Regions from separate parts of the Homo sapiens genome. Here region 2 is linked to region 1. The links come from fine-mapping of genetic effects on gene expression. A gene starts in region 1. The other region holds a variant in brackets. All regions are shown on one strand. Distances are between the middles of the regions. Region 1 holds the start of RIBC1 (RIB43A domain with coiled-coils 1). Region 2 has its middle 35 kb from the start of MIR98.

The links. PIP is the estimated chance that this variant, and not a neighbour inherited with it, causes the effect. A credible set is the group of variants that fine-mapping cannot tell apart.
Region 2: its variant is the best candidate, but not a certain one, in a credible set for the expression of RIBC1 in whole blood (TOPMed, PIP 0.83).

What each region holds. Positions count from the first base shown.
Region 1 is chrX:53,421,574-53,424,482 of GRCh38, reverse strand. RIBC1 (RIB43A domain with coiled-coils 1) reads right to left here and starts at 1,610. Exons shown (of 8, transcript NM_001031745.5): 1 at 1,479-1,610; 2 at 1,081-1,169. It overlaps SMC1A (structural maintenance of chromosomes 1A), which reads left to right and starts at 1,829. Exons shown (of 25, transcript NM_006306.4): 1 at 1,829-1,991. The coding sequence starts at 1,883. RefSeq lists enhancers at 1,522-1,571, 726-1,697, 1,862-2,041, 2,232-2,281, 2,402-2,581 and 1 more.
Region 2 is chrX:53,519,844-53,522,752 of GRCh38, reverse strand. No RefSeq gene overlaps it. Among named protein-coding and RNA genes, the nearest start is that of MIR98, 35 kb to the left of the region's middle. The variant G/T (reference allele first, on the strand shown) is at 1,396.

The sequences.
Region 1 (2,909 bases):
AGGCTGAGGCAGAGAATAAAATTTATTTTATTTTTAATTTGTTTTAGATGGGGTCTCTCTCTGTTGCCCAGGATGGAGTGTAGTGGTGCAATCATGGCTCACTGCAGCCTCAAACTCCTGGGCTCAAAGGATCTTCCTGCCCCAGCCTCCTGAGTAGCTGGGACTACAGGTGTGTGCCACCATGCCTGCCTAATTTTTAAAATTTTTTTGTAGAGATTGGGTTTTGCTATGTTACCCAGGCTCACCATCTCATCTTTTAAAAGGGAACAGTATTTCCCCATGGATTACATGAGATTGCTGTCTTTTAGCCATTTTATCCCCTCAGCCTGATTGTTTCTCCCAGCTGAACTTCATTTATGGCTCCCCTACTAGATTCCATCTACCAAGCTTCCTCCCTTTATTTATTTTTGAGACAGGGTATTGCTCTGTCACCTAGGCTGGAGTGAAGTGGTGCGGACACCACTCACTACAGCCTCAACCTCCCAGGCTCAAGTGATCCTCCTGCTTCGGCATCCTGGGTAGACCAGAGGTGAGAGCTGCCACACCCAGCTAATTTTTTAATTTTTAGTAGAGATAGGGTCTCACTATGTTGCCCAGGCTGGTCTTGAACTGCTGGTCTCAAGTGATCCTCCTGCCTTGGCCTGCCTCCCTCACGATGGGATTACAGTTGTCAGCCACCATGCCCAGCCACTTCCTCACTTTCCTGGACTTGTCCTAAGTCTTTAGGACTCTTTCTAGCCTTCGGACATAATTTAATAAATAGTTAAAGGAATAATTATGGCAACCACCAGATCCTTTCCATGTTTAAGTCTGAGAATGGCACCAACTTACCTACTGGTTTCACCTGCCATTACAGTATAAGGTCACTGAAGGGGAAGATTCAGCTGACATTTTAAGCTTCTTGGATTGCTAAGGCCCCTGCCTTATTAATGATAGAGAGCAGAGAGGGAAGAGAGGTAAGGTGGCATTGTGGTATAGAGCTGTGGGAATGGGATGGGGGAGAGGCATGGAGGCAGAGGTAGGTGGAGGTGGAGAGCGCTGGCTTAGGGACCCTGACTCCTGGGGGTTCACACAAAATACCTTTCTCAGTAAGGAATCCCGATTTTGAAGCTCTTAGGTTGGCTCTGCATGCAACTTTGTTCTTGGGTTACGGCGGCAGTTTCTGAACTCTGCTTGGTACAACAGGAGGGAGGCAGGGGATAGGGGTAGTATCTCAGGCCGTAGCCTTCCCCAGCCTGTATCCCTGTTGCCTGGGAGTAGCCCCAGTCCCATTCACAACCCGTCCGCCTTCGCAACCCGTCCCGCCACCAATCCCACCCCACCATTAGCAAAGTCTGAGCTCACCTAACACTGAATCCTCCCGTTGGCCCCTCCTTCCCGTCCAGCTCTCCGCTCCCCCCGGGTCCTTCCAATTCCCGACCCTGTCCTTGTCCTAGCCTTGAAAGCTGGCCAGGCTAAAGCCACAGCCGAGCTCCCACCTTCCTCTTGCCCTGAGGGGCATAATCCTGCTGTGACTTCTGTCTCAGCAAGCGTGAGCTCAGGTCTCCCCCGCCTCCTTGAACCTCAAGAACTGCTCTGACTCCGCCCAGCAACAACTCCTCCGGGGATCTGGTCCGCAGGAGCAAGTGTTTGTTGTTGCCATGCAACAAGAAAGGGGGGCGGAGGCACCACGCCAGTCGTCAGCTCGCTCCTCGTATACGCAACATCAGTCCCCGCCCCTGGTCCCACTCCTGCCGGAAGGCGAAAATCCCGTTAGGCCTGGACGTATTCTCGCGACATTTGCCGGTCGCCCGGCTTGCACTGCGGCGTTTCCCGCGCGGGCTACCTCAGTTCTCGGGCGTACGGCGCGGCCTGTCCTACTGCCGCCGGCGCCGCGGCCGTCATGGGGTTCCTGAAACTGATTGAGATTGAGAACTTTAAGTCGTACAAGGGTCGACAGATTATCGGACCATTTCAGAGGTTCACCGCCATCATTGGACCCAATGGCTCTGGTGAGATAAACCTGGCCGCGGCCCTGCGCACGTCCCGGCCTGGACCCCTTATCCGGTGCCGGAGTAGTACAACCCAGCCCATGTAACCTGAAACGTCGCGGACCCTTACGGGTTCCTTGCCCGTCCAGAGGGGGTTCTGCTCGAACCCACTCTCCCCGCGCGGGTGCTCTAACTCGAACCCCTTCCAGGTGTCACTTGCCGCTTCCTGCGCGGCCCCCGCCCCGGCCCAGTGGTACAGGCCGAGCTGCCAGTTACCCCGCCTACTTCCCCCTCCCGCCAAAGGAGTCGCGTCTGGAACCAGCTTCCCGCCAGCTCAGTCCTCCGCCGCGCGGCTCCCCGCCGGACCGGCCGGAGCCGGCTTCCCAGCCTTACTTGACCCCCTCCGGAGAATGTGGGGACGCTGGTAGCTCTCCCGTGGCCTTCGGTCCCAAACGGTGCACTTCTGTTTCAGCCCAGCGTCCTCTCTCGCCTCGCATTGGTACACTCCAACTCCTTTCTACTCTTCTCTGGAGGCGGCACTTTTGAATTTCAGACCCAGCGCTCCAGTCTTTAGAATGCTTGAGGTGTCGATCCCCACCCCCCACCGCTATGTCAGAGGTAGTTGCCTCGAACTCGCCCTTTTCCTACCACCGAAACCGTCAAAAGCCGAAATTAACTAATTTACCAAATTTGTTGAATGCTTATTGTTTATCAGGAGTTATTCAGTTGCAAGTTGTGGAAACAGCGGAGAATAGAATAAACCAACTCCATGCTCACAGGGAACTTATATTCCAGAGGGGAAAGAAGATAAGGAGAAAATAAGATGGTTTTAGGCTGTCATAAGTGCTATACAGGAAATGAGACAGGTGGATGTGATAAAGTGACTTAGGTGGTGTCTTTAGAAAGGGTGGTCAGGTAAAGCCTCTATTTTGTGTCTTC
Region 2 (2,909 bases), 98 kb before region 1:
TTACAGTAGTACAGCATGTACTACAGTTTTATGCAGTTATAATCTAATACCGCATCTTTACATTTGTTTATATTTCTTTCAACTGGGAAGGGTACCATGTACAATCTTTAAGTGTGTGCCTCAGTTTTTTTGTTTTTTTTTTTCCAGCTTCCCAAGTAGCTGGGAATACTGGTGTGCACCACCACACCCAGCTTCTGTGCATGTTTTGTTTTGGGTTTTTTTTTTTTTTTTGAGACAGGGTCTTGCTCTGTCACCCAGGCTGGAGTGCAGTGGTTTGATCACCACTCTCTGCAGCCTTGACCTCCCAGGCTCAAGTGATCCTCTCACCTCAGCCTCCTGAATAGCTGGGACTACAGGCATGCACAACTACGCCCAGCTAATTTTTTATTTTTTGTAGAGACAGAGTCTCGCTACATTGTCCAGGCTGGTCTCAAACTCCTGGGCTCAAGCAATCCTCTACCTCAACCTCCCAAAGTACTGGGATTACAGGCATGAACCACTGCACCTGGCCCATAAGTTGTGATAAATTTTAACATTTTATGGTAGATTTGTGTATATTTGATGGTAGTATATGATAAAACAGACTAGCATCTACATGTATTTTATGCATTCATGACACACCTTTTTCTTAATGTCTTCAATATTTCTAGGCTATGTGGTTTTGTTACAGTAGGGTAGGGTAGCTAGTCAGACATGAGCAGGGCAGGAGAGGGCCCTGCCCCCTCCCCCCTAACCAGGAATGTCGGGTGACCATCAGGTGATGGTCAAGTGGTTGTTAACTATCTCTCTAAAATAATAATTGGTTGCAGCCAGTGCCAGGGAAAGGCAGTCTCCTGATAGATAGAAAAACCTGAAACTGGTGATCAACAGCTTCCCAATATCTCAGGAGTTTGACAAGTGGACTCACGCATGCACAGTAAGATGTATATGACTTTCTAGGGACATTTGGTAAGGGAAGAATGCCTCAAGTGAGCACGCGTACAACTCCAGTAAACACACTGTGCATGCTCCTCTCCCAAGCGCCGGCAGGCTGCTATGCATGCTCACGCCCACTCCCAGGGAAGAATCAGGGGAGAGGGAATGCAAGATCCCAGAAGCGTGCCAATGTATAAAACCCCAAGTCAAAGGTCAAACTATGCACACTTGATCTCTCAAGTTGCCCGCTACATCCTCTTCCAAATGTACTTTACTTCTTTTGATTCCTGCTCTAAAGCTTTTTAATAAACTTTCAGTCCTGCTCTAAAACTTTCCTCAGTCTCTCACTCTGCCTTGTACCCCTCAGTCAAATTCTTTCTTCAAGGAGGCAAGAATTGAGGTTGCTGTTATAAATAAAGTTTCAGTGCTGCAAAAGAAACAGCACTTGAATATAAAATATTCTTTTTAATTCTCAGCAAG[G/T]CAATGTACTTCTATAGAAGGGTGCACCCTTACAGATGGAGCAATGGTGAGCACACACTTGGACAAGGGAGGGGAAGGGGTTCTTATCCCTGACGCATGTGGCCCCTGCTGCTGTGTCTTTTCCCTATTGGCTAGGGTTAGACCACACAGGCTAAACTAATACAATTGGCTAATTTAAAGAGAGTAATGGGGTGAGTGGTTTGGCAGGAAAAATGGTTATGGCAGAGCAGGAAATCGGAATGAGTCAGGGTGGAGAATGAGCAGGTAATCGGAATGAGTCAGGGTGGAGCAGGTAATCAAAAAAGGTTGCTTTACAAGGAAGTTAAGTTTAAAAGTACAAGGCAAAGAATTGAACATACTGACATATTGATTCTTTGAAGAGAAATTTAGAATTCATATCTAACATTGCCACAGACACATATGGATTTGCTGCCACTAACAGTTTTTTGTTTGTTTGGTTTTTTGAGACAGAGTCTTGCTCTGTTGCCCAGGCTGCAGTGCAGTGACACGATCTTGGCTCACTGCAAGCTCCTCCTCCCGGGTTCATGCCATTCTCCTGCCTCAACCTCCCAAGTAGCTGGTGTAGCAGGACAAGCCACAGACAAAACCCCTCAGACACCGAGTTAAAGAAGGAAGGGCTTTATTCGGCCGGGAGCTTTGGCAAGACTCAAGTCTCCAACAACCGAGCTCCTCAGGTGAGCAATTCCTGTCCCTCTTAAGGGCTTACAACTCTAAGGGGGTCCGCGTGAGAGGGTGGTGATCAATTGAGCAAGCAGGGGGTATGTGACTGGAGGCTGCATGCCATCAGTAATTAGAACGGAACAGAACAGGACAGAGATTTTCACAGTGCTTTTCCATACAATGTCTGGAATCTATAGATAACATAACTGGTTAGGTCAGGAGTCGATCTTTAAGCAGGCCCAGGGTGCAGCGCTGGGCTGTCTGCCTGTGGATTTCATTTCTGGCTTTTAGTTTTTACTTCTTCTGTCTTTGGAGGCAGAAATTGGTCATAAAACAATATAAGGGGTGGTCTCCTCCCTTATTCCCCCACTTTGAGAACTTCACTCATTAGTGGGAGTTCTCACTTTCATTGTCACTACCCATGTCTTCTTGCAAGACAGATCAATAGTGATTCATATAGTACACTTGTGCTGAAGCATTTTGGTGAACTAAGGCAGCAATGAAGCTTTTTATTGTTTGAAGAAGTACAGGTAGCAAACAAGGGAGCAGTAAGCAGGTTTCTATTACTATTATAACTCCTATTATAAGAGTTTTAAATCTTTCTAGTGCTGGGAACCATTTTCCAAACATGGCCCCAGGATCAAATCCATGCCACACTTGCACAGGCACATGTGCCAGTTTTGTCATATTTCTAACTATGTCTTTAACTACTTGCCCTTGATCATCTAGGTGTAGACAGCAATTAGTAAGATTAAATTTTCTACAGACCTCTCCTTCAGCTGCTAGCAAGTAGTCCAAGAGCCAATCTATTTTGATAGATAGCATTTCTCATC